Homo sapiens: one gene and its partners. The protein of the gene in region 4 purifies or fractionates together with the protein of the main gene of each other region. This does not show direct contact. Each region holds a gene or a part of one and is shown on either strand. Other genes may lie near its edges.

Region 1 (7,025 bases), on a different chromosome or scaffold from region 4:
CGGTGAAACCCTGTCTCTACTAAAAACATAAAAAATTAGCCGGGCGTGGTGGTGGGCACCTATAGTCCCAGCTACTTGGGAGGCTGAAGCAGGAGAATGGTGTGAACCCGGCGGGCGGAGCTGGCAGTGAGCTGAGATCGTGCCACTGCACTCCAGCCTGGGCAACAGAGCGAGACTCCGTCTCAAAAAAAAAAAAAAAAAAAAGGAGTCCATTATAATGATTGAGGACCCAGCTTTTGGAGTTGGACCTTGATTTAAATCCCAACCCATTACTTATCAACTGGGTTACCCTGAACAACTTAACCCTTCTGTGCTTCAAATTCTTCATCTGCACATGTGATTACTATCTACTTCACGGGATCATTTTAGTGATTTAGGTGAACTATTGTTAGACAGTAATTGCAAAGCACTGAGCACCATGCTCAACAATACATAATGAAGGCGGTATAGCAGCAGCAGCAGATACAACATCACCTATTTCACCTGCACCATGGGTTATTATCACATACAAATAAGAGGCAACTTTGGGAAAGTGGTCTGGGTACCTACAAATAAAGAATGACACATTCTTCTCAATGGAAAATGCCTTATACCAAAATCAAGGCCTGCGTATATTTTAAATAAAGTTATATGCATACAAACTTTTCTACATTTCCTATGTGTTCTATTGATTTCTAACATTTTTTACTAAAAAAAAAGACTCAAAAACGTTTTTAAAATACTGTATGTGGTACAAATGTGTATTTATATTGTAAACATAAATATAGATACACAAAAAGTATACATGCAGCCGGGCATGGTGTCTCACTGTTGTAATCCCAGCACTTTTGGGAGGCTGAAGCGGGCGGAACACTTGAGGTCAGGAGTTCGAGACCAGCCTGGCCAACAAGGTGAAACCCCCATCTCTACTAAAATACAAAAATTAGCCAGGCATGGTGGCAAGCGCCTGTATTCCCAGCTATTTGGAAGGCTGAGGCAAGAGAATCACTTGAAACCAGGAGGCAGAAGTTGCAGTGAGCCAAGATTGCGCCACTGCACTCCAGCCTGGGCGACAGAGACTCCCTTTCAAAAAAAAAAAATGGTACATGCAAATTCTATGATAGTGGTTGCCTATAAAAGGAAGGAAAGAAAAGAGACTAAGATAAGGTAGAAAGAAAACTTCAACCTGGGAAGTCTGTCCTATAACGTTTGATTTTTTTTTTAAAAGAAAAGATAAAAAGCAAATATGATGGAGGGTTAATATTTGTTAGTTCTGGGTAGTGGGGAGGTGGATGTTTCTTGTATTATCTGCATTCTTCTATAACTGTTATGTTTTCTAACTTAAATAAACATACCAGCCTCTCTCCCTAAACTTCCCAGTCAGTCTAATTATGCAGCAGAGAAACAAACAAACAAACAAAAAAACTATGGTGCATTTCTGATATCCTTAGGAACATATTGGACAAGTATTTTCCTTAAAGTTGCTTCATAGCTGGGCGCAGTGGCTCACACCTGTAATCCCAGCACTTTGGTAGGTCAAGGCGGGCGGATCACCAGAGGTCAGGAGTTCAAGACCAGCCTGGCCAACGTGGTGAAACCCCGTCTCTACTAAAAATACAAAATTAGCCGGGCATGGTGGCACGTGCCTGTAATCCCAGCTACTCTGGAGGCTGAGGCAGGAGAATCGCTTGAACCCGGGAGGCAGAGGTTGCACTGAGCCGAGACCACACCATTGTACTCCAGCCTGGGCAATGAGAGCTGAGATCACACTACTGCACTCCAGCCTGGGCAATGAGAGCTGAGATCACACTACTGCACTCCAGCCTGCTGGGCAACAGAGAGAGGCTCCGTCTCATAAATAAATAAATAAATAAATAAATAAATAAATAAATAAAATGTATTTTGAAAATAATGACATCTTTTATGCTTTTACCCAGCATATAAAACTGTACAAAGAAAACAGGCTAGGCCGGGCGTGATGGCTCATGCCTGTAATCCCAACACTTTGAGAGGCCTTGGCGGGCGGATCACCTGAGGTTGGGAGTTCAAAACCAGCCTGACCAACATAGAGAAACCCCGTCTCTACTAAAAATACAAAATTAGCCAGGCGTGGTGGCGCATGCCTGTAATCCCAGCTACCAGGGAGGCTGAGGCAGAATTGCTTGAACCTTGGAAGTGGAGGTTGCAGTGAGCCGAGATTGCGCCACTGCACTCCAGCCTGGGCAACAAGAGCGAAACTCCACCTCAAAAACAAACAAACAAACAAACCAAAAAAAAAACAGGCTTTATAAATAAGTCTGCAATTACAGGCTGGAGCCGCTGCACCCAGTGGCTCAAGCCAGCTACTCGGCAGGCTGAGGCAGAACTGCTTGAACCTGGGAGGTGGAGGTTGCGGTGAGCCAAGATCGTGCCATTGCACTCCAGCCTGGGCAACAAGAGCGAAACTCCATCTTAAAAAAAAAAAAAAAAAAAAGCAGGCTTTATGAACAAGCCTGCGATTATAGGCTTGAGCCACTGGACCCACTGCACCCAGTGAGTGCCTCAAGCCTGTAATCTCAGCATTTTAGGAGGCTAAAGCAGGAGGATCACTTGCACCCAGGAATTCAAGACCAGCCTGGACAACAGAGGGAGAGAGACCCCATTTCTTTTTTTTTTTTTGAGACAGAGTCTCGCTCCGTCACCCAGGCTGGAGTGCAATTGCATGATTTCAACTCACTGCAACCTCCGCCTCCCAGGTTCAAGCAATTCCCCTGCCTCAGCCTCCCGAGTAGCTGGGATTACAGGCGCCCGCCACCACACCCGGCTAATTTTTTGTGTTTTTTTAGTAGAGACGAGGTTTCGCCATGTTGGCCACGCCGGTCTCAAACTCTTGACCTCATGATCCACCCACCTCGGCCTCCCAAAGTGCTGGGATTACAGGCGTGAGCCACCACACCTGGCACAAGACCCCATCTCTATAAAAAAATTTTTTTTAATTAGCTGGGTGTGATGGCACACACCTGTGTGCTACTCAGGAGGCTAAGGTAGGAGGATCTTGTATACTTTATACATATAAAACTTTACCATATTAAAAAACCCTCTGGCTGGGTGTAGTGGCTCAAGCCTGTAATCTAGGCACTTTGGGAGGCCGAGGCTGGCAGATCGCTTGAGTCCAAGAGTTCAAGAACAGCCTGGGAAACACAGCAAAACCCCATCTCTACAAAAAAAATTTTTTTTTTAATTAGCCAAATGTGTGATGCAAACCTGTAATCCCAGCTACCCAGGAGGCCAATGTGGAATGATCGCTTGAGCCCAGGAGGTCGAGGCTGCAGTGAACCATGATCATGCCCCCTGTATCCAGCCTAGGTGACAAAGTGAGACCCTGTCTCGAAAAATTAATAAAACAAAATGAAAACAAATTTCGAAAAACTGACTTGAATTTTATTCAGAGTTTGGTACTTCCACACCTTGGAGATTAATTACTTCATTATATAAACATGGTAGTTAAGATTGATGAAATATTTCCAACTAAAAGAAATTTAAGAGGCCAGACGCAGTGGCTCATGCCTGTAATCCAGCACTTTGGGAGGCCGAAGGCGGGTGGATCACTTGAGGTCGGGAGTTCGAGACTAGCCTGGCCAACATAGCAAAACCCTGTCTCTACTAACAACACGAAAATTAGCCAGGAGTGGTGGCCCGTGCCTGTAATGCCAGCTACTTAGGAGGCTGAGGCAGGAGAATTGCTTGAACCTGGGAGGCGGAGGTTGCAGTGAGCTAAGATTGTGCGACGGCACTGCAGTCTGGGTGACAGAGCAAGACTCCGTCTTTAAAAAAAAAAAAAAAAAAAAAAAAAAGGAGCCAGGCGCGGTGGCTCACGCCTGTAATCCCAACACTTTGGGAGGCCAAGGCGGGTGGATCACGAGGTCAGGAGATCAAGACCATCCTGGCTAACATGGTGAAATCCCGTCTCTACTAAAAAAACACAAAAAATTAGCCAGGCGTGGTGGTGGGCGCCTATAGTCCCAGCTACTCAGGAGTCTGAGGCAGGAGAATGGAGTGAACCCAGGAGGCGGAGCTTGCAGTGAGCTGAGACGCACCACTGCACTCCAGCCTGGGTGACAGAGCGAGACTCCGTCTCAAAAAATAAAAATAAAGGAAAAGGAAAGAAATTTAAGGCCGGTCGCAGTGGCTCGCGCCTGTAATCAAAGCACTTTGGGAATCCAAAGCGGGTAAATTGCTTGAGTCCATGAGTTTGAGACCGGCTGGGCAGCATGGCAAAACCCCATTTCTACAAAAACTACAAAAATTAGCCAGGTGTGGTGGTACATGCCCATAACCCCAGCTACTGGTGAGGCTGATGAGGGAGGATATTTTGAGCCAGAAGGTTGAGGCTATAGTGAGCCACGGAGTTCAAGACCAGCCTGGGCAACAGAGTGAGGCTCTGTCTCAAAAAAAAAACTGCTCACTTCAGCAGCACATATACTAAAATTGGAATGATACAGAGAAGATTAGCATAGCTCCTGCACAAGGATCACACAATGTTTTTCAAGAATTCAAAAAGAAAAGAAAAAGAAATTTAAGAAAACTGGAGATATTAAATAGCCTTCAAAAGTTATATCCTAGTCTACTTTTTTTTGTTGTTTTTTTGAGACAGAGTCTCGCTCTGTCACCCAGGCTGGAGTACAGTGGCAAAATCTTGGCTCACTGCAACCTTCACCTCTCGAGTTCAAGTGATTCTCCTGCCTCAGCCTCCCGAGCAGCTGGGACTACAAGCGCCCACCACCACACCAGGCTAATTTTGTACTTTCAGTAGAGATGGGGTTTCGCCACGTTAGCCACGCTGGTCTCAAACTCCTGACCTCAGGTTATCATCCAACTCAGCCTCCCAAAGTGCTGAGATTACAGGCCTAAGACACTGCACCTGGCCTACTTTTTAATCCCTTTAGTAACCTTAATTTCAAAATAAAATAATATATAACCCACATACTTCCAAGTTAGTGTTTAAGTGAAATTTTCTTAAAACTTACAGAACATCTAAATGATATATTGCAACATTGTTTAGAACTATCAAAGAACTATCACTAAGCAAAAACAAGGCTTAATTTTAATTTTTTGTTGTTTGCTTGATTAATTAATATTAATACCACGACTCTTTGAAACATGGCCAGTGGAAATTCTTTGAGTATTAGGATCTCAAAATTTGTGTCAAACAATGACTACATTAACTCTCAAACATACATCAAGCATAACAATCACAGAAAATACATATAATAAATTTAATTATATATTTTAATATAATTTAATTTTAACATAATTTAATACTCTTCAGGTTTTAAAATGTCTCTAAGGAACCTAAAATGGCTCTCCGTTGTGTAATACATCAAGTCTAAACTGTATTTTGAAGGCCCTACACACAAATAGTACTCAAATCTCTTCTACCAACCCTCTCTTTGGTATAGCTTTAAACCAAGTGTTTTCTACTAAAATCTAAAAATAAGTCTCCTGACAATACTTGGCACTGTACTTGACACTCCTTGAAAACTCAGCAGTCAAGGCAAAGTTCTACCCTAAGTAAAGGCATACCTACAGGCCAGAAATTGAGTCTTCTTTTTTAACATATTTTTTCTCCCTCTAAGGAAATGTTAGCTGGTTTTAGTCAGTTGTATTCTTAAATTACATTGCCTGAAATTATATTCTCATGCCTCACTTGCTAAAGAAAAGCTGTTGCCTAGCTCAGTGGCTCATGCCTGTAATCCCAGCACTTTGGGAGGCCAAGGCGGGCAGATCATGAGGTCAAGAGATAGAGACAATCCTGGCCAACATGGTGAAACCCCATCTCTACCAAAAATAGAAAAATTAGCTGAGCATGGTGGCACGAGCCTGTAGTCCCAGCTACTCGGGAGGCTGAGGCAGGAGAATCACTTGAACCCGGGAGGCGGAGCTTGCAGTGAGCCAAGATCTATCTCGCCGCTGCACTCCAGCCTGGTGACAGAGCGAGACTCCGTCTCAAAAAAAAAAAAAAAAAAAAAAGCTGTCTTTGAAGAATCCCCACACTTGAAACAAAAAGTAGCTGTTCTAGGTGGTAAAGAATTCTAAAATGTATTTATACCAGCAAAAAACTAAAACCAAGAAAAATTAAGTCCTCTTTGCCAAATTTCTAATGCTACTATCATAGTCCATGTTCATCTTGAAATGTAAAACTTGTATCTACTTATATCTATCCTTATAAACCACACAACTCACTAATCTCCAAAACTTTCAACTCATTAATGTCCAAATGTTTCAGACCCTCAAGAATCTACTCACATTTACCATTAGACATAAAATCGCAAATCCCTTTCCTAGAATTCAAGGTCCTCCCTTTATCTAAGCATCCTCTTACTACTCTGTACCCCAGTAAGAGTTTCCTCCCTGTTTCCCAACCATTCAGTCATAATTTAGACCTTTTGCCCATACCATTATAACCTCATACCACTCCTTCATAGGGAATGACTGCCCTCTTGCTTTCTACCAACTGTCTACCTGTCCACTAACGTCCAACTCATTATACTCCTTCACTAGGCTGGACGCAGTGGTCCGAGACGAGCCTGGGCAACAAGGAGAAACCCCATCTCTACAAAAAATTTAAAAATTAGCCAGGCATGATGGCATGTGCCTGTAGTCCCAGCTACTTGGGAGGCTGAGACAAGAGGATAGCTAGAACCTGGGAAGTTGAGGCTGCAGTGGGTGAGGGAGCTATGGTGATACAATTGCACTCCAGCCCTCCCAGCGTGGGTAACAGAGCAAGACCTTGTCTCAAAACAAAAAACAAACAAACAAAAAAACTCCTTCCCTAATCTTCCCCAGTCTCCTGAAGGAAATCAGAAGTGTACTGACAATGAGCCGCTATCACAGCACTGTCCAATACAGTAGGCAACAGCTGCATATGGCTACTGAGTACTTGAAATGTGACTAGTACAAATTGAGATGTTAAGTATAAAAGGCACACCAAATTTCAAAGACTAAGCAATAAAAAAGAATGTAAAATATCTCATGAATATTTTTCACATTGATTACACATTGAAATA
Region 2 (7,025 bases), on a different chromosome or scaffold from region 4:
ATGGTCATACTAACAGGTGAAGTGTATAAGGTGTCTGTGTGTTTTGTGTAGCTTCAGAGTTACATTGAAATTACCAGGCACAGACTTAGTCTTGTCATTTTGTTTACACATTGGGGAAAACAAATCAGTTTGTTAAACGTTTCATGTAACTGCACCGAAGTTTTGCCAACCTGGAAACTTGGATCTTTTCTGTGTAGTGACTTTTTAATTATAGTTTTCACAACCTGGAGATCAGACTGTTGCTTTCACATGATGTATGTAGTGTCTCACGACTGAAGTTTGCTTTGTTTTATAGTATCTGTACTCGTATTTTTCAAAAGCTATTTTGTCAACAGATGATGTATTTCTCCATTGAAAACACAACTAAAAAAACAGCACAATCTCAAAAAAAAATTATGAGATTTTTTGTGATTTTTTTGTTTGTTTAGCTTATCAGCTATCATTAGTGTTAGTATATTTTATGTGTGGCCCAAGACAATTCTTCTACCAGTGTAGCCAAGGGAAGACAAAAGCTTGGACACCCCTGCATTATAGGATCACGATACACAGTGTGAAAACACTGTTCTAGAGGATGGTCTATGAAAATAAGGAATCAAGATTAATTGACGTGGGACAGACCAAGGTAACTCCATGATGAGGTAACTCCATAAATGCAAATCTAGTTCATTAATTTGCATTCAATTCTTATCCCCAACCATATAAAGTTTCCCAAACCCTTAGAAAACTGTTTTCATCACATACAAAAATGCAGTGTCTCAACTGACTCCTCTCTTCTAAAAGGAGGTATGTTTTACTATGTGGATAAATAAAGAAGGTCTATAAATAAACACAGGTAGAATATATTTTAAATGAATAATCATCTTTTAAAATTTATGGTTTCTATATCTGAATATCAGATTAAAGCCTTAATACTTTACCTAAGGTTTATGACATCAGACGTCAATTATATCACGAATAAAATGATATAATTTCTATTCATATATATACCTGATTCTGACTTTTACTGTTCTCATCTTCATTGTCAAAGATAATATCACTTTCAGAATCTGAAGCAGGCCTGAAAAAGGGAAACAGAAATACTAAAGGAACAGAAATCCCTATTATCATTATAAACATGGACATTTTTAAATACTAGAAAGCACAAGAGGCTACAGACATCACACCATGAGCCCACAGGCATCAATGTATACTCTACACTGTGCTGATTTGTACTTGCTATTATGCAAAACACAGAACCCTTGATTTAATAAAAATTAGCCAGATTAAGTTTCCTCAAAAAATTTAATAGTGAAGAGTAATCATAAACTGTATCCACTTGGATAAAATAAAACAAAATCATGAAAGTAAACATCCAGGGTGGATTCTGAGAAGCATAAAATTTAGGATCATAATTATTGGTTTGGTACCTTTGGGGGCTGCAGTTGGCACTGTATCAAGACTCCAAATTAGTTCTTAAATGTTTCACAGGGTTGCAAGCCCTTATCCAAAGGAATGTCCTATGAGAAATTCTATTCAATGTATAAGATGAGGTATTGAATTTTCCTTTTTCCATGGCTTGGATTTTGGAGATCTTTTGAAAATAGCGGGAAAAAAAATCCTTTAGATTAGGGGTCCCAAACCTCCAGGCCATGGACAGGTACAGGTCCACTGCCTGTTAGGGCCGCACAGCCGGAGGTGAGCAAGCATTAAGGCCTGAGCTCCACCTCCTGTCAGATCAGCAGCCGCATTAGATTCTCATAGGAGCGCAAACACTATTGTGAACTGTGCACACGAGGGATCCAGGTTGTGCGCTTTTTCAGCAGTCATTATGAGACTCTAATGCCTGATGATGTAAGGTGGAACAGTTTCATCCCGAAACTATTTCCCTAACACCCGTCTGTGGAAAAATTGTCTTCTATGAAACCAGTCCCTGGTGCCTAAAAACGCTGGGGACCGCTCCTTTAGATTGCATTTGGTTACTCTCTAAAAGTGGTGGTTTTGTTTTGTTTTTGTTTTTGTTTTTAAACATGGTCAACACGTCTGGATTTCTAAATGAATCCCCTTTTCCCTGGCTTGGACTTGGTGGGGATTAATGTTGGGGGGCATTCGCTGGCCCGGGAGGCGGATGTTGCAGCCAAGGACGCGCCACTGACCTCCAGCCTGGGTGACAGAGCAAGACCCTATCTCAAAAAAGGAAAGAAAGAAAAGAAGGAAAGAAGGAAGGAAGGAAATGAAAGGAAAAAGGAAAAAAAAATAAAGAAAGGAAACTAGGGGGCGCATCAGAGGCAGCTGGTCCGCGCCGTGCGCTTACAGGAAGGACTGGGAGAAGACGCCACCGTGCTCGTCCTCGTCGTCGTCCTCGTCATCGCTGGAGCCCGGGCCGGTGGCGGGGAAACGGGCACTGGCCGAGCGCTCGCCCGAAGTGCTCCACTCCACCGAGCTGCTGAGGATGGGTGGCGGCGCGGCGGCCTCTACGCTGTCCAGGCCGTCTGTGTCGCTCGCCGGCTGCCCGCGTGCAGCTCGGTCATCCTTGGCCAGGGGCCCGGAGTCCGGGGGCGGCGTCCCCGGTCCCGCCGGCCGCTCGTGCCGCTCGATCCAGGCGTTGTAGTAGCGCACAATGTTCTCATGGTGCAGCCGTGACAGCAGTGTCACTTCGCCCTTGATCCTGCGGAACTGCCGGCTGGCCGGGTTGATGGGGATGCGCTTCACTGCGTAGCAGCAGCCGTCCAACTTGTTCTGCACCTGCGGCACAGCCAGGGGAAGGTCAGCCGCTCGGAGCCTTGCACAAACAGGCATTTGCACCGCACCCCATCCCCTCCCAAGGAAAGCGTGAAGTTCTAAATGAGTCCCACAGCTACAGTCAAGAACCACATGCCTGAAATTCTTAAACTGAAGAAAGCTTTGACTGCCACAAAATTCAGAAAACAGCCCACCCGACTCTAGATATATTTAGCTTGCTGGGAGACCCTGGGGAAAACATAATCTCCATTTTAATAATTAATTTTACTGACAGTTACCTCCCTGCTTTTCCAATGTATCTGCTATCTAAATTTCTAAGTGTCTTGATTTTAAGATTAAAAATTATTTTCTAAAGTCAGTGTAAAGTTTCAGATGATTTTAGTTTCTCTCTGATTTTTTTTTACACTTAAAGTCACTAAAAACAAATTAAACACCAAAAATATTAACAGACCTGAACACAAAGGTTAATTCCTTGATTTCTAAAGCCGTGTGAACTTGGGAAAATTACTTAATTTCCTTGAGACTCAATTTTCTTATCTTTAAAATGGCATTTATACCATTTCCACTACCCCAAATGGTGACTGTAAAGCACTTGTATCAAGGCCTCACAGAGAAAGGTGCTTAGCTTAGTCAATAACAGCAATTGCTATTAACACAATCACTGCCCATTGATTTTGTTATATACCTAAGATGATGTATACTGAAACCAGAACAATACAATTAACAACACAGTAAAATAATAAGAAAGCAAGAAAACGTTGCAAAGGCAAGTCCTCCCATCCTACATAGAGGCATCCTTATGCCAGGCAGTTTCACTATGTAATTGGGGTGACTGAAGTAACTTTTACAGAGTCTTATTCACTGAAACCTTGTAGTCACATCCGTGCAGGTCAACTGAGGTGATGATATACTCTAGAAAAGCAAATGCCATGTGGCCATGGGTGGCAGGAGAAATTAGTTGATTACAAAACACAAAACAGAATATCATTCTCTTGTTTGGCTCACAAGTTTCAATTAAACTAATAAAAGTCTAAGTGAAGTCCTGGGAATAAGAAGGAAGTACTACAAAATTGAGTTTCAGATTATCTTTTTTTGTATGGAAATAGTGACAAGAACACACACTTTGTAGTACAACAGAGGTGGGTCTGAATGCTGGTTTTATCTCCCTTATCTCAGGCAAAGGACATAACCTTCTCTGAGCTTCAGTTCCCTCATCTAGGGAATGAGGATCATACCCATCTCGTAAGAATGTCCTGAGATTTAAAGACAAGGTTTGTAAATCACCTGGCACACAATCTGAAATATGGCAGGTGCTCCAAAAAATGATAGCCCTGTGTTCTTTTACTGCCACATTAATAGGGAAGAGGACAGTGTAGGGCGGGAGGTGGGGATCTTGGCATTGCCTTTCGATCTCCTGTCTCAGTACACATCATATACGAACTGGGTTGGGAGTAAAGCTTGCTATACTGGAAACCCCTAGGAATTCATTTACTGAAGTGAAAAGGTGCAGAAACAGTAATGGGTCCAACTGCTAATGAATGCCAGATCACTGGGCAGGCTGCCCTACTCTGACACAGAAGCACAGAGGTAGGAGGTGAGGGCTGTGGATTCTCACAGGGAGAAACTACTGGAAACCGTGGGGGCTTAAGTTACTCAGATGTTTTTGTTATATGAGCTTGCCTATCATTATTAAGTACTTGTAAAGAGATGAAATTTGTTACTATTCTACGTTCAAGAATTTAAAATAGAATGAAGTTAAAGGATTTGATCAAAATGATATTGTGTTAAAGGGACAGTATACGCTTCAATCATCCCCTCCTCTTAGACATAATTATGATCTTTCTGATCAGGACATCTGTCTTGCTTGTCTGTCTTTTACCACAGGAAAACTAATTTAATTCCTTTTTTAGTGTAAAAGTTTTTCTACAGTAACAGTAATGCTTCCTAATGATACTCTCAGAATCCTTAACAGACAATATACTCAGTTGATGGTGGGTTACCTTCATATGTGAAAGATGACATGTACTGTATATGGACTTAATACAATAATCTGGGTCTCCTAATTTACAAAGAAATACTTCTATTATATAAAAACAGCTGAAACCTCTTTCTACAAGGGGCAGATAATAATAAAAGTCACCCAAATAGACTAGAACGAAGAAAGGAAGACCCAACAACAGTGTACCTTAATAATACATCGCTACTTTCCTGTCCCAATAATAGCTGGAAAATAAAAGCCATCGAGACCTGCTGGGGCCATCTCCCAGTTTGAAGTCCATCTCTCTTCTAACCTTAGAACCTTTTTATCTACAGCAACTCTAACAGCAAACAGGAGAAAAAAAGAACAATGTTCTTTCTGAACCAAAGCACACAAAAATGTTCTTTCTGTGGAGGTCTTGATTCCACTTGAAGTGCTGTTATAACCATGTGTGTTTCATGTTAATGCTCCACATGAAGCAAGGAAAGAGGAGTGGGACAATTCTCAACTGTGTCCAGCGTAACTTAAATAAAACCTTTAACTCCAGGAAGGTGAGGATGAGCATAGTATCCAACAGCCATATTCACTTCCCTCCCCACTCCCAAAATAAAAGTAAAGTCCATGAGTCTTTGTGGAAATGGAACAGAGAAGGAGCTCTAAAGGGGACTGGGAATGACTCTGTACCACACCTTGATGACAGCTCCAAAAGCTCCTTTACCAAGAAGTTGTAATTCTTCAAACTCAATGAAGTATCGGGAAAACTGTCTCTGTGTCTCACTAAAGAAGGCAGCACTGGGTAGCCGGTTGCTAGGAATAACAGTCTCAACATAATCTTGTCCTTCAGAATCTGAGATAAAACAGGGAGTAAGAGGCACATGAGGCATTGGAAATTTAGGAAGAGCTACATAGCCAACAATGATGGAAGCCCTGGAAGAAGAGCTCCAACCAGTAGTTTGAAAAATTACCTCTTACCTGAGTGGCCTTTTAAAACTTTTCCTCACCTTGCCCTCCTTAAAGTAGGCAGAAATATATAATTAGCCCAAGTTTACAGGTGGGGGATTATATAGAATAAGTGACTTAACTATAGAGCTAGAACCAAAACTCAGGTCTCATGATCCATCCCAATCTCTACCGAGGTTCCTTAATCTCAGGTGCAGCAGGAAAAATCTAGTTACATGGCACTATGGGTGACTAAACACTACAAGAGACTACAGCAATGGACATTCATTCCATCAATAGAGACTAGAAAAATCAGGGTGGCAAAACAGTCCCATGCACATGGCACACATCAAACTAATGGATTTAGTTCAGAATAAAAGACATAAAATAACACATGCAGCCCCTTCCAGTTTTTGGTTTATGTATACTTTCAAAATAATTTAATGTCAAACAGGTTACCAAATAAAGAAAGGTAACAGACTCACCTTCAGGACTTTGTTCCACTAGAGGCATTTTTGGCTGGGGATTTATAAAGCTGTGTTTCAACAACTGCTGGGGACTCCATCTTTCCTTGTCATCCAAGCACACACATCTCGGTGAGAGGGAAGGAAGAATCTTAGCATCACAAACAATCAGTGCTAAACTAGTTAATCCAAGGCATTAACTATGGGTTTATTTTTTAAAGATACACATTATAGAATTCATGTTACTCAAAGACCAGAATGTACTCTCATAGGTGAATTTAAATTAATAAACATTCCTGCAGGATTTACATGCTATGCGACAGGCTGGGTACAAGAGGCGAATCAAAAAAAGGCATCTCTAGATGAGAAGACTTACCCTCATGGAACAATTTTTTAAAAGTCTAAGGTAGCACAAGTAGGCTATAAATTTTCACCTCGATGAACAGTTTAATGCCTTGTCATGCCAAACTAAGCCTTTGCAGGAACCGGTTATAAATAAAGCTTTCGAAAGACAAAGCAAATCAGAGAGTTGGTGCAGCAGAGTGGCTCAGTATGACGAGCTTTAGATGAAGCCTGCTCATTACAGGATGAAGCAAGTTGGAAACATTTAGGGAAGGCTTTTTTAAAGTCCCATATTCTATTGCATACTTTTTTTAAAAATTGGTTTATGCTTTTTTTTTTTTTTTGAAATAGGGTCTTGCCGTATCGCCCAGGCTGCAGTGCAGTGGTGTGATCTCAGCTCATTCCAACTTCTGCCTCCCGGGCTCAAGCAATCCTCCCATCTCAGTAGCTGGGACTACAGGCAGGCACCACCAGGCCTGGCTAATTTTTATATTTTTTGTAGAGATAGGGTTTCACCACACTGCCCAGGCTGGTCTCCAACTCCTGAGCTCAAACAATCTGCCTGTCTCGGCCTCCCAAAGTGC
Region 3 (7,025 bases), on a different chromosome or scaffold from region 4:
CCCAGAATGGGCTGGAACTCACTTCCTAAGATAACACTTGGCTCTGGGTGCTCCTGGGTGCTGTACACTCATCATTTTGCTCAGAAAAATAAAGCCACAGCTTCCGTGTACTGCCTACCCTTCAGACCCAACTCCTCCCCACTCCCCGGTCCATTCACAGACGGGCGTCAATACCCATTTCTTCACACCACCCAGCAGCACACATCAGGGGTTCAACACCCCTGCACACGAACATGGACACCGAGGCCCACGAGGTGCTGAGAACACAGCGCTCTGGGGTTCCCAGTTGCAACATCCAGCTAGATCAAAACCAGCAGGACTCATAGAGAAGGTCTTACAGGTCTCTTCAAGTTATGAGATAATAAACTCATTATCATTGAACTTCACCAATGTCAAAAAAATTCTCAAACTTGGGCTTTGCAAAGTGTTCATAATCTGTCTGCTATAGTGGTAAAAGCATTCACTTTTCAATAAGACCACCAGGGGCTTGATTCATGGTTATGCTGCTTTCAAGCTGTGTGACCTTGGGCAAGTTACCTAACTTCTCTGAACCTCCATTTCCTCTTTTATAAAATGGAGATACTAAGAACCACCTTACACGGCTGTAGTGAGGACTAAATTAACATGCAGGGCAGTTGGCATAAAATAGATGTTAATAAGTTCCAGTTTCCTCTCTAAAATTGGAATTAACTGCCCATAATTCTAATTTCTAGATGTTAACTAAAGACTTAATTTTAAGTCTTAAGCTTGCCTTAATTTTATTCACTATCACAGAGTAGTTTATCCAATGGAATTAATTAAACTTCTGGCTTCCTTAGGAGTACACCTATTGAAACGTGCCTCTCTGAGCAGATAATATATCATTTAGTCTCTTATCCCCCCTTCTGCCAGCTTCCCAACTAAACTTGAAGGGCTTTGACAGCAGGGACTATTCCAGTCACCTCTTTACTTCCCATGGTGCCCGGAACACTGCAGGTCCCCAGAAAACAACCCCTAAAAAGAGACAGTAGACGAGGAAAAGGAAGACCACATGCTTAAGGTTACAGAGAGGATTGTCAAGAAATAGACTGAGGTCCTGTCTGAAAGCATTTGGATTAGCATTTAAAGCCCCAGGTGTACCAAATAAACACATCTGCGGCTTTAATTTAGGCCCCTGGGATGCCACCGCTGTTAGAATTCCAGAAAACTAATTAGCTAATTCCCACTGCCCCAGGTATTACCTGAACTCACTTTGTTGTTTTCTGCTCCAAACAAAGCCAGAGGGGCCAGAGGAGAGCCCTTCCTATGGGCATCAAAGTACAAGATGTGCGCTTTGATTCTTTCTCCATGAACACACTGCTGCTCAGCCGCCCCGTGTCTGTTCTCTCTTCAGTTTACTCTTAAGCCAAAATCAACTGCTCCCTCTTCTGCCCTCCCCCCGCCCCAGCACTTTGCTCATACTGCACCCTCACTGGGCTCTGGGTTTGTTCTCCCTGGGGCCACAGGGAGTGTGTCAGTGTCTACACCTCCCCCAGGGACTGAGTTGCTAAATGCAGCAAGGAAGCTCACCCATCTCCCCTCTTCCCCTCGTTCCTCTCAGAGCCCAGAACAGTTTCTTACGGGAGAGTGGATCTGCAAGGGAATGGCATTGACTCTGCCGATGATCCCACGCTGCAGATCCTACTCGACCACCACCCAGGCCACCCCAAGCTCCAAGAGCAGATGCAGCCGGGGGCCTTCGGGGTCTCAGGGCTCAAGTACAGATAGCCAGGTCTCTCCCAAGCCACACATGGACAGCTTCTGGCCTGTTCTATGCCTGCCCTGTGAGAAGCAAAGAACTTTCCTCTTCCAGAATCAGGATTTTGCCTTAAACAAAGGTAAATGCTTACATAATCTGAATTGGATCCTTGGCAGAAATATTTCATTACCACTTGTTGCTAAGGGTGAAACTGAACTAGACACAGTTCCTGCCCTGAAGAACCTCACCGAGACACAGGAAGTGCAGGTCAGCAGTGTAATGCAAAATAGAAGAGATGGGGGCAAGAAGGCCTGGAGGGAAACAGAGAAGGGAATGGAAAATTCTATCAGGTCAGTCTTGGCGGGCCTCATGGAAGGCTCAGTCATCAAAGTTGAGTACAGGTTTGCTGTCTGAAAAGAAGGGGCTTTCCAGGCAGAACGTATACAAGGCATCGGCTTGACCCAAGGGCGAGACACCTATTGTGTGCCTGGGCAACACAGGTCCTTCCAGCATGAGGTGTATGCAGGGACAGGGGGTAGGAGGGCAACGAGGGGCCCGTTCAGCCTAAGCCCTGCTAAGGTGTTTGAAATTAACCACGTCAAGCCACCAAAGGAGTTAGGCAGGGCTGATGAGGCTGTGTTTGAGATTCCTGCGGCTTCCTAAGGAAGGCTTCTAGGAGGATACTGCAATAGACCAAGACTCAAAGAGGACTAAAGACTGCCTCTGTGCAGGGTGAGTAGCACGAGGAGCCTAGCTGACCTCGGGCTTTGGAAAGAGTCGGAGGCAGTGGTGGTCTCACTGTCATAGAGAAGAGTAGTGCATGGGGGTCTGAAGAGAGAGCTGAGAGGTCACGATGCCAAGTGTTCCGATCCCCATGGCCCCCCTCTCACTTGCCATCCACTCACTCGCGGATGCCCACAGAACCCGCCTGTGCACAGAGCCTCAAGCGGTGTGATACCCTCTCCTCCAGAAGGATCCATGGCAGAGAAGGAAGGGCCATGGTCTGGAGTCAAGTCTATAAGAGCAAAACCCCAACCCTGGCTTCCTGCCCGGCCTCCCTTTCCCTTCCCTTTCTGCCTCACTGCCTCCATTCTGAATCACATCCAAAACACACCACATACCCTCCCACCTGGGGTTCCATCTCCTTCTGGGAGATGGCCTTCTCCTAGAAGCCCTGCCAACCTGGCCCTTCAGGGCCACTACCCTGGCCAGCCACAGGGACATGACCCCACCCCAAATCTCACTAGAACACCCCAAATTCCAGACATCACTGACCCATGCTCCCTCCTCTTCTAACTTCCCTACAACTAAATTCTAACTGGAAGAATTCCCCAGCCAACACAGAAGCATGGTGACTTACTTCTGGTGAGTCCAAAGTTTGAGAAAACAAGACTTGAAAAAAGCAACACTCTCCGGACTGCGTCCTCAACCTGTCTCACTTTCAACAGCTGAGGAAGGATGGGAATGGGGTGCTCCAGTAATGTGGCAATAGTCAGCCCCCAATATATGACACGGCAATAAACGCATTGAGACTGCAGGATGGTCTCCTATAAACTCTTTGACGGTCCTCCCAGCAGGAAACAAGACATCATTCTCATGTAGATTTCTCCGATTTTCCCTAGAGGAACTCATAAACTCCACAGGTGTTACTGAAGGGAGAAAAGCTGGGCTGAGAGGCGACTGGTGTCTAATTTGTTTGTCTCTCCAACTCAGACTGCCTGGCCCACAGCCACAGCTCAGCCCCGAGCTGCTCTACATCTGTGCACAGAATGTCAGAGAGTGTTTCTTTGGAGAATATCTTTAAGTGCTCTCAAATGGAACTACAGAGCCATCAGCTATGTCCCCTCCGATTGCAGTAAGAACTGAATGGAAGAGAAGGACCTTCAGAATAAAGCCAGGGAAGCAGAAACCACTGAAAACCTTCTCTCTGGAACCAACCAGGCAGGGCCCAAGCAGTGTTTTGAATCTCCTTAGCCTATCATTCATAAGAACACAAACTAATTATCTGCAATCCCTTTGGATATCATTTCAAACAATAAAAATAAGGACACCCGTTCATTAAGTGGACTTGTCTCGGTTTACTGCTCCCCTGCACCTTATTAGAAGGGCCAATGCTTTGCCATTATTCTGCTGAACACAGGCCACAGCTGTCTTCGTAAGTCAACACAAACCTCTCCAACCCCCAAAGCAGGTGCTCGCTTGCAAAGTCAAATAAACCGTACCTTACAAAAAGCTGGTCACTTCAGGCACTCCACAGACCAACCAGCCAAGAGGCTAAGCCCAGCAGAGGTGGAAAGTGTGCAGGGGCTCCCGCCTCCTGGGCTGCGCCTTTGATCTGTGCCTGGGGATGGAAGAGGATGCGTGGGGCGCGTAATGCCCTGCTGTGCAGAGCCTGGCTCGGGTCTGCCTGACACCCAGGCTTCCTGGCCCCTGCCCGGCAGGGAGAGGCAGCCAAGCCAGCCAGGGGAAAAGTTTCAGAGCTAGTATCTGCTCCCAGAGCTACAACAACAACCAAAAAAAAAAAAAAAAAAAAAATTCAGCAGTAGCCCTTCCAACTGGAGCTTCATCTGCCCCAGCGCCTGCCGGGTCAGATGGCAAATGCCACCGTTTCGTGTCTTCTTAGCCCTGAAGTGTTTTGCTGGGTCACAGTGCTCTCCACACAGGTACATACCAATCTGTCTAACCACCAACAGTTAAACTGATTCTTTTTAAACTACATGGAAGTTTGTGTACTTGGACTGGAGCCACAGTACGCTGTGCAAAGAACAAAGGGTCAGGAGAAGAACACAGGCTTTGTGGTGGAAGACAGTCAGCTGGCAGCCTGGCTTGCCTCCGAAGGACTACAGGTAGCGTGGACCTAAGCCACATAAGCGAGCACGTGCCCCTTCAAACAACTCTGCTGTGAATACCATGGAACATGCCCCAACAACAAAAACCCCCTGGAGAGGCCCAGGAAATCTTCAAGAAAACACCAGCTATTGGCTGGGCACAATGGTTCACACCTGTAATCCCAGCACTGTGGGAGGCCGAGATGGGAGGATTGCTTGAGCCCAGGAGTGGGAAACCAGCCTGGGCAACATAATGAGACCACATCTCTACAAAAAATAAAAATTAACTGGCTGTGGTGGTGCACACCTGAAGTCCCAGCTACTTAGAAGGTTCAGGTGGGAGGATCGCTTGAGCCCAGGAGGCAGAGGGTGCAGTGAGCTGTGATCGCACCACTGCACTCCAGCCTGGATGACAAAGTGAGACCCTATCATAAGAGAAGAGAAGAGAAGAGAAGAGAAGAGAAGAGAAGAGAAGAGAAGAGAAGGGAGGAGAAGGGAGAAAGGAGGAGAAGAGAGGAGAGGAGGGGAAGGGAGGGGAGAGGAGGGGAGGGGACACGAGGGGAGGGGAGGGGACACGAGGGGAGGGGAGGGGGAAGGAAGGAAGGAAAAGAAAGAGAGGGAGGGAAAAAGGGAGGGACGGAGGGAGGAAGGAAGGAAGGGATGGAGGGAGGGAGGAAGGGAGGGAGGAAGGAAGGAAGTAAAGAAGGGAAGGAAGGAAGGAAGACGGGAAGGAAGGAAGGAAGAAAGGAAGGAAAGAAGGAAGGGAAAGTGAGAGAGAGGGGGAGGGAGGAAGGGAGGGAGGGAGGGAGGAAGGAAAGAAAGAAAGAAAGAAAGAAAGAAAGAAAGAAAGAAAGAAAGAAAGAAAGAAAGAAAGAAAGAAAGAAAGAAAGAAACACAAGCTCCTGTCCAGAGCTCTCTTTACATCCCTGTTGCAATTGACTCTTACGAATCCAGGACTCCTGATCAAATCCTAATTCAAAAAGGAAAGAAAATAAATCATGAGAGCCCACTCCAATTGTGCAAATACCTTTAACTTTGCTTTTTCTCTTCTTGCTAGGATCACTAACTTCCTGCAAAAGTGACTTGAATATGACCCAGAGGGTTCAAGGTCATTTATCTTTTGTAAAAAAAGGTTAAAGAGGTGGATTACTCCTCTTGGTGCCCCAGTCAGGGAGGAGAGTTCCCAGCTGTTCCTGGGCTCAGTCCCCAAAATTGCCAGGCGCTAAAGGGTAGAACTTGTGTGGTGGGCTTCTTCGTTCCCAGGCTGGGCAGTGCCTCCCTAGAAAGGGCAGTGGAGACCCCACCCATCCCTGCACCTTCATCGCCAGGCAGGGGTGGCACCCGCTGGAGGTTCTGCCCGAGCGAGCATCTGCAGCTCTGAAGCATCCCTAGTGCCAGGGCTTTACTCGTTGGGGAGGCACACTGTACGCGGTCTGTACGTGGAGTGCCCCGTGCCTTCTGCCACTCAGGGCACCGTGTGTGACGGTGGGAAACTGGAAACTAACAAAATACCCAGCAAAAAATGCATACTTAACACAGCCTGCAATAAATGCATAAAAGCTATGTGCATGAAGAGTTTGTCAATGATGCAGACACACTTAGGATACAACATTCAGCAAGATACATTTACTGTATAGAAAGATAGGTAGATCCTGCGGATAATTTTAAATTCTTATATATGAGATCATATATATTAAAATACATGTATGTATTTTATGTTAAAATAGTATATTTTATTTATAAATATATAAAATTTATATATTATTATATATTATATAAATATCATATATTTATCTAATATATGATATTTATGTAATATATAATATATAAAATATTTTTATATTTTTATATAATATATAAACTTATAACATGTTAAAATAGTATATACTATTTATTATATTTTTAGAGAAGGGAAGAGAGTTTAAGCAGTAGAGTTTTTAAGATGATGGGCTCTGGAGCCAGGTTTGGGTTTGAATCTTCACTTACTGGATATTAGACCTTGAGCAAGTTACTTAACCTTTATGTGCCTCAGTTTCCCCAACTGAAAAATGGGAGAAAAGTACTTGCTTCTTAGAGTTGTGTGGATTTAATAATTAGTATGTATAGGGTGCTTAGCATGGTACCTGGCACATATATAATATTATACATGCCAGGATAATAGTAACAATTCTTACCAATATGAAGCTTGCCACCTGTGAATAAATAAATTAAATGTGTAAAAGGGACTGAAAGAAAATGTCGGCCGGCGCGGTGGCTCACGACTGTTATCCCAGGACTTTGGGAAGCCAAGGCAGGCAAATCACCTGTGGTCAGGAGTTCAATCCCAGCCTAGCCAACATGGTGAAACCCCATGTCTACTAAAAAATGCAAAAATCAGCCAGGCGCGGTGGCGGGTGCCTGTAATCTCAGTTACTTGGGAGGATGAGGCAGGAGAATCTCTTGAACCCAGGAGGAGGAGGTTGCAATGAGCCACAATTCCA
Region 4 (7,025 bases):
CCCACCTCAGCCTCCCAGAGTGCTGGGATTACAGGTGTGAGCCACTGTGCCCGGCCTGTTTGTGTTTCCTGTAGAATGTGTGGAACATGTGAGTACATTTCACTGTATGTTCCTACTGGTGAAGTTGCTGGGAGTTAAGGGATGTGCATCTTCGGCTACTGATCTGGTTTATTTTTAATGCTTGAAAGATTACTTAGGTTCTCTATTTCTTCTTGAGTCAGTTTTGGTAAATTATTTTCATTATTGTTATTATTTTTTAGACAGAGTCTCACTCTGTTGCCCAGGCTGGAGTGCAGTAGCATGATCTCGGCTCATTGCAACCCACGCCTCCGGGGTTCAAGCTATTCTCCTGCCTCAGCCTCCCAAGTAGCTGGGATTATAGGCATGTGCCACCACGCCCGGCTAATTTTTGTATTTTTAGTAGAGACGGGGTTTCACCATGTTGGCCAGGCTGGTCTTTGAGCCGCTGACCTCAGGTGATCTGCCTGCCTTGGCCTCCCAAAGTGCTGGAATTACGGGTGTGAGCTACCGCGCCCAACCTGACATCCATTATCTCTTGAAGGAGCCCATCTGGAGGGTGAGGGAGCCTCTCTGGCCTTTTCTTGCATAGAAACCTGTGAGCAGGTGGAGTGAGCACTAAAGCGATGACAGAGATTCTCCTGGCCAGGGGACATCTGGAAGAATATATATTGTCCTGGAGGGGAGTGGAGAGGGGGCTTTTTTTTTTTTTTTTTTGAGATGGAGTGTTACTCTTGTTGCCAAGGCTGGAGTGCAATGGTGCAATCTTGGCTCACTGCAACCTCTGGCTCCCAGGTTCAAGTGATTCTCCTGCCTCAGCTTCCCGAGTAGCTGGGATTACAGGCGTCCACCACCACACCTGGCTAATTTTTTGGTATTTTTAGTAGAGATGGGGTTTTACCATATTGGCCAGGCTGGTCTTAAACTCCTGACCTCAGGTGATCCGCCTGCCTTGACCTCCCAAAGTGCTGGGATTACAGGTGTGAGCCACTGCCCCCAGCCTGGAGGGGGCTTTAAGAGACTTTCTTTGGGCCTAGCTCTAAGCTTGCCACACCACCGTCACAGGTTGAACTAATTGGGGTTGTAAGTGGACTGTTTTGGTCAAGGCAGGGTGTGTTAGTTTTTTTTTTTTTTTTTTGAACAGTCAAGTGTGCTTGTTAGCCCTGTTTATCACAGAGTCAGGGTATACAGTAAGTACCCTGTAGCCCCTCCACCGTGCTCCTCACCCCATCTCTCGCCAGTGTTCACCCAGAGTTGTCACACACAGCACCACGGGATGGGGCGTCCACCTGCAGTTGTGCAGGCAGTCTGGAATGGCAGGAAAAACTCTGGCCCTGAGGAGGCCACAGGCTTAAATGTATGCCTTTGGCCCCAAAGGCCCGCTAGGAAGTTGAGCTTGAAAGTAACTGTCTCCTGTGTGCTCAGTGCTTTACAGTGTGCAGAGCCCGGTCTCAATCCTTGGTGTATTTCTCCCCTCTTGCCTGCCTGTGGCCAGCAGGAGTGGGTGGTGTCACCATCCCTGCCTGTAGATAAGAGCTGCAGGTGCTGAGAGGGTTGGCAGTGGTGGCGGCTGCTAGAGACCTGGGTACTGTGCATGCTGCGTTATCTCACTGTGTCTCCCAGACACTCTCCCAAGTGAAGAAGCTGAGCCCCGGGTTGACGAAGCACTTGTTGAAGTCACGAAGCCCAAGTGGCACAGCTCACCTCCCCAACCCAGGATGCTCTGCCGAGGGAGAGCCCCAAAAGCTCTGGGGAAGAGTGCGGGGACACCTGGCTCCTAAGCGTTCTTCTTTTGTGCGTGTTTACTTGGTAGAAGTGAAGAGAGTGGCCGCAGCAGGCTGGATGCAGCCTTTGGAAGGAATGAAAGGCTGCAGGCCTAGCAAGGAAGGCTTAAAATCAGCTGCACGTTCTACTTCTCACCCTTGGTCACCTCGCAGCTGACCTTCCTCTCTCCACGTTTACTCTATCTGGGCCTGGGTGTGCTTCTGCCACACACAGAAAGAGCCTGTGCCACACCATTTCTCCCTGGAACCCCTTCTGGTGGCCAATGGGACTGTCACCCCGGGGTGTCGAGGTGGATGGGGCAGGTGGAGCCCTGCACTTACCGTCCTTGTTCTTCCCCGGAACAGTTTGGCCCAGTGTCCACCCACATCCTTCTCCCACCAAGGATCCCTCCTAATGGGACCATGGCTTTAGAAACAGGACCCCTCAGGGCCGGGGCTGCCCTTGGAGGTGGGAAGGACGAGAGGTCAGCCTGAGGTGACCTCCAGTTGAAGCTGGCCCTGGGAGCGTGGGATTAGGGTGGCCTCCAGTTGAAGCTGGCACTGGGAGCGTGGGATTAGGGTCCCTGCCAGGCAGAAAAGGGTTTCTCGTTTACCATGTCCTCCCCTCCCTCTTTCAGGTGTAGTGTCTTTTCCCATGACCGGGAGTTCATAGAAATAGTTAAGTATAAGATGATCGTGTGCGAGAATGTTGGTACTAAACCAGCATGGACAGTTTTCTGGATTTCTCTACTACTAACTTGTCTGCACTGAGCGTGACTCACCCCTAACCTGGTGGGAGCGCTGATTGGAGGGGCGGGAGGCTGGCGGCGTGAGCTCCAGATGGTGCATGTGCCCTTGGGCTTGGCATGCGGCGTGTCTTCGTGTGAAGGACCTCTGGGAGCAGCGAGAGGGCTGAGCTGAGCTGAGCTGAGCTGCATGTGGAGGGGCCCTCCCGGGAGGCCTGTGCCCTGAGGCTGAACTTTTAACAAAACCCTGGGACCAGAGGGCTTCAGGGCTGATCAGGACCTGCAGCGCTTCCTGCTGGGAAGCAGGAAGCAATAGAAAGTTTACGCTTTCTATTGCTCAGGAGCCGCTCAGTGATTAAAACAAGTCTAAAAAGCCAAGGGGACTCCGTGGCCCCACCACTCCCAGGCTGGAAGGCAGGTTCTTGCTTTGTCAGCCCTTCCTCAGCCCTTGTCCATAGGCAGAAGGGGTTTTTATTAATACATGATTGTAGCCTTGTAGGAGATGAGATTATGTGTCTTGCTTTGAAAATTCTACACAAAAGCCTGTTTCCTAGTTGCTACAGCAGCCCTCAAACTGCCCATTTCTAAAGCTTTCAAGTAGCCCAGTGATGCAATTGGAAAGCCCAAGGCCCAGTTTTTCAGGCTACCACACCCCATGCGTGGAGGCTGCTGGGAGGTCTGTGGTAACTCCATGAGCCTCAGTCCCTTCCTCCCTGCCCCATGGGCTCAGAGGCCCAGCACCCCTGGGTGCTGAGAGGGCAGGGTGCCCTTCACAAGTGGGCAGTGTCCGGGCAGTCCTGTCAGGATGTGGGGTCAGTCGTAGGAATGCCGGCACCCCTTGGCTGCTGAGTCCTTAGACTCCTGGGGGCCACTAGGTGGGAACTGGGTTCTACCTGACAGCAGCTGCCCCCAGCCGCAGTGCTAGCCTTGGGCTGAGTCTTCTGTGCTAGATCTCTCCTGGGCCCCTCCTTCCTTCTTACTCAAGTCCAACCCCAGATATTTTCAGTTGCCGTGATTCTGAGGATCTGATGCCCCTGGAAAGGTACAACAGTCCCCAGCACCCACTAGCTGGCCCAGGCCCCAAACTGCCAGGAGTGGCCTTCTTGAGACCATGTGTCACCCTCCCAGGGAACAAGAGCTCGTGGCTGTCTGATAAGCCAGGCCTGTGTGACTCCTCAGGACATGCACCCCCAGGTCCCTGTACAGCTGAGCACAATAGCTCAGGAGTGCAGGGCCATGATGCCTGTGTCTGTCTTCTCTCCTGGGCCACAGCCACCCCACGTCATGCTGCAGCGCCGCAGAGATCATGGCTGTCCTCTTTTTCCACACCATGCGCTACAAGTCCCAGGACCCCCGGAATCCGCACAATGACCGCTTTGTGCTCTCCAAGGTAAGAGCCCAGCTGCCCACTGCCAGCCACACCTTGCCTGGGACTAGGGTCACACGGGCCCTGGAATGGTGAGTGGTCTTTGAGGAGACCTGGCTGGGCCCACCTCTCCCAGGTGCCTTCTCCCTGCTCGTCCTGGCCTCTCCCTCAGTGTCCTGCTCTGTGCTGACCCAGCTGGCTAAGGAATACAGGACTGAATTGATGGGTTGCTCTGCCATGGAGCCCAGGTACATAAACAACGCTTTAACTCAAAGAAATGGAGTAGGGGACTACGGAAACATCTGTTGTGTGTTCTGCCCAGTCTGGGTGTTGACAGGCAGGACTGGCATCTCGGTCTGGGTTGTGGCTCCCTACCTGCTCTATCTGTGTTGTGCCAGCGCTCCCGAGGCCACGGCTTGCCCCCTCGGGGTGGTGGTGTGCTGTAGCAGGGTTTTGGATGGGGACCCCCTGACCCCCCCCTTCTGGGTGGAATCACAGCCACAGATCCCTGAAATCCACCTGTGCTCAGGCCTGCCTCCGTGGCGTTTGGTCTCTCGGGCAGGCTTTAGAGCTTAGAAGTCTGTCCAAGTTGTTCCCATGCCACAAACCAGGGATTAGGGCAGCCGGCTGCCTGCTGGGGTTTTGGCTTCGTCCAGCCTCACAGCTGTGCCCCCTGCACCTGTCTTAGTGCCTGCCTGGCCTTGGCAGTGGGAACTTTGGGCTGAAAACCAAGAGGCTGAAGAGGGCTGAAAGGGGAGAAGTGGCCTTCACTTGCTTCCTCCCCTGAAATGGATGCTGCAGTTGGCCGGCTCGGCCGGGCCCCAGGGGTCAGTGTGAAGTAGGCACAGCCCGAAGTAGAACCGCTCCCCACCTGACCTCACCCCACCATCCATCTCCCGGCAGGGCCATGCAGCTCCCATCCTCTACGCGGTCTGGGCTGAAGCTGGTTTCCTGGCCGAGGCGGAGCTGCTGAACCTGAGGAAGATCAGCTCCGACTTGGACGGGCACCCGGTCCCGGTAAGTGCTCCTGCCAGAGCCTCCCATGCCTCTGCCTCCACTTCCTATTTCCCAGACATGTGGGACGGGGGTAGGGGGTGCCCACTGAGAAGCCAAAGGTGTTGAAAGGCGGAGGAGGGCATTGAGTTGAGGAAGGAAAGAAGCAGGTGTTTTGGGGACACGTATTCAACCCAAGCTGGTGCCAAAGGGGAAGGCCTTCTGAGGCCTCAGCCAGGGTGCTCTGGGATGACTTCAGGGAGGGCCTCTCCCCAAGCTACCCTTCTGCACTGGGCCTCCTTGGCTAGGTAGCTACAGCTTGGGAAGAGAGGGGACTCGATAAGGGAGTGGCTGCAGGATGCTGGCGAAACCCTGGGGAAGGGACCCAGTTTGTTCCTTGGGGTGCCATCTGGCATCCCTGCAAACGTTAAGACTTCATGGATTACCACAAAAACTGTCACATGGTCTGGGTCCCCACGAGGGGCAAATGTTCTGTCAATTTTTTCATGATTCTCTCTCCCAGCACTTTGTGAAGTGGGTGATGTGGGAACTGAGGCTCACAGAGGTTCAGTCCCTTGCCTGAGGCCTGAGGCCACATAGCTGGCTAGTGGGCAGGGCTGGGATTTGAACCTATAATTATAATTAGTTCATTAGGAGAAGAAGTCACATGCTAGGTAGAGGCCATCCTGGGGCCTGACCTTCTGCAGAGGAAGGGCTTGCTGGGCTGGGTGGGAGTGTGGCTCCCTAGGCGGGTGAGACCAGGATCCCTTCTCCTCTCAGATTAACGGTGGCCTTCTGTTATGACAGAAACAAGCTTTCACCGACGTGGCCACTGGCTCCCTGGGCCAGGGCCTCGGGGCCGCTTGTGGGATGGCCTACACCGGCAAATACTTCGACAAGGCCAGGTAACACACCTACTCCCCACCCCCAACCTGGGTAGTTTTGGGGAGTGGTCCTTGGGTGACCCACCCTTCACCATCGCCCCCAGACTCTTCCTCTTTCCTGGCTAGGGCAGAGTAATACATATGCGTGGCCTCTTTTGCTCTTTAAACATCCGCTATGGCTGGTGCCATGACCGGCCCCCTTTACAAATGAGGAAACACTCAGGAGTTAAGGGACCTGCCCTGGGTCCCTCAGCAGTGACTGGCAGGGCCAGGTTTGCACAGAGTGCGTGCTCTCAATCATGTGCTCTTCAGCCAGAGTGCTTAGGCTGAGGACTTCCTGTTTTGCCCCCAGCCCTGTGCCCAGACCCCAGAAGTCTCAGAAAGACCCACCCCCAGGCCCCTGTCTGACTAGGCACCAGGAGCCCAGGCCTGAGCCACTTGCCTTTATCTTGGTAAAGGGGAGGGTTGTATGTTCTGAGGGGTTCTGGGATACCTGTAAGCCACCTCCTATCAGCAGGGAAGAAACAAACATTTGAGAGATTGAGCCTTCAGAGGGTGGGTGATGAGCCTGACCAGAAAGGTGTGCTGCTCTAGCGCCCACCAGGTGATTTGTAGGAACGGCCCCCCAGGAAGGTTCTAGCCATAAGTTTGTCTGCGGTGGTCAGATATGGCCTGGGGGGATGAGGTTGTAAACTGTTAAGAATAATGGCTGGCTGAGGGAAGGATTGCTTGAGGCCAGGAGTTCCAGACCAGCCTAGGCAACAGAGCAAGACTCTCTCTACAAAAAATACAAAACTTAGCCAGGCATGGTGGTACACACCTGTAGTCCCAGCTACATAGGAGGCTGAGGTGGGAGGATCACTTGAGCCTAGGGCTTCAAGATTATAGCTATACATGATTGAGCCACTGCACCCTAGCCTGGGCTACAGAGCGAGACTCTGCCTCTTTAAAAAAAAAATTATTCTTTTTTTTAAAGAATAATCACTGTATTAGTCTGTTTCCACACTGCTGATAAAGGCATACCCAAGTCTGGGGAAGAAAAAGAGGTCTAATGGACTTACAGTTCCACATGGCTAGGGAGGCCTCACAGTCATGCTGGAAGGTAAGGAGGAACAAGTCACATCTTATGTGGAAGGCGCAGGCAAAGAGAGAGTTTGTGCAGGGAAACTCCCGTTTTTAAAACCATCAGATCTTGTGAGACTTATTCACCATCACGAGAACAGCATGGGGAAGACCTGTCCCCATGATTCAGTTA

The links.
Region 1: the proteins of TKT (region 4) and TRAPPC8 purify together in Homo sapiens (affinity purification with mass spectrometry; 2 studies listed by BioGRID and IntAct, with this or other methods). This does not show direct contact.
Region 2: the proteins of TKT (region 4) and EIF2AK4 purify together in Homo sapiens (affinity purification with mass spectrometry; 2 studies listed by BioGRID and IntAct, with this or other methods). This does not show direct contact.
Region 3: the proteins of TKT (region 4) and GREB1 purify together in Homo sapiens (affinity purification with mass spectrometry; 2 studies listed by BioGRID and IntAct, with this or other methods). This does not show direct contact.

Annotation. Positions count from the first base shown.
Region 1 is NC_000018.10:31,933,117-31,940,141, forward strand, and holds part of TRAPPC8 (trafficking protein particle complex subunit 8), read right to left. Parts: intron 3,336-7,025; exon of another isoform or gene 3,305-3,335; coding exon of another isoform or gene 3,223-3,304; intron 1-3,222. UniProt on the Homo sapiens protein: Plays a role in endoplasmic reticulum to Golgi apparatus trafficking at a very early stage. Maintains together with TBC1D14 the cycling pool of ATG9 required for initiation of autophagy. Involved in collagen secretion.
Region 2 is NC_000015.10:39,972,110-39,979,134, reverse strand, and holds part of EIF2AK4 (eIF-2-alpha kinase GCN2), read right to left. Parts: intron 6,228-7,025; coding exon 6,121-6,227; intron 5,544-6,120; coding exon 5,386-5,543; intron 2,722-5,385; coding exon 2,291-2,721; intron 1,058-2,290; coding exon 988-1,057; intron 1-987. UniProt on the Homo sapiens protein: Metabolic-stress sensing protein kinase that phosphorylates the alpha subunit of eukaryotic translation initiation factor 2 (EIF2S1/eIF-2-alpha) in response to low amino acid availability.
Region 3 is NC_000002.12:11,537,023-11,544,047, reverse strand, and holds part of GREB1 (protein GREB1), read right to left. Parts: intron 4,230-7,025; exon of another isoform or gene 3,940-4,229; intron 3,444-3,939; exon of another isoform or gene 3,371-3,443; intron 1,363-3,370; exon of another isoform or gene 1,221-1,362; intron 1-1,220. UniProt on the Homo sapiens protein: May play a role in estrogen-stimulated cell proliferation. Acts as a regulator of hormone-dependent cancer growth in breast and prostate cancers.
Region 4 is NC_000003.12:53,239,017-53,246,041, reverse strand, and holds part of TKT (transketolase), read left to right. Parts: intron 1-3,799; coding exon 3,800-3,917; intron 3,918-4,796; coding exon 4,797-4,910; intron 4,911-5,693; coding exon 5,694-5,791; intron 5,792-7,025. UniProt on the Homo sapiens protein: Catalyzes the transfer of a two-carbon ketol group from a ketose donor to an aldose acceptor, via a covalent intermediate with the cofactor thiamine pyrophosphate.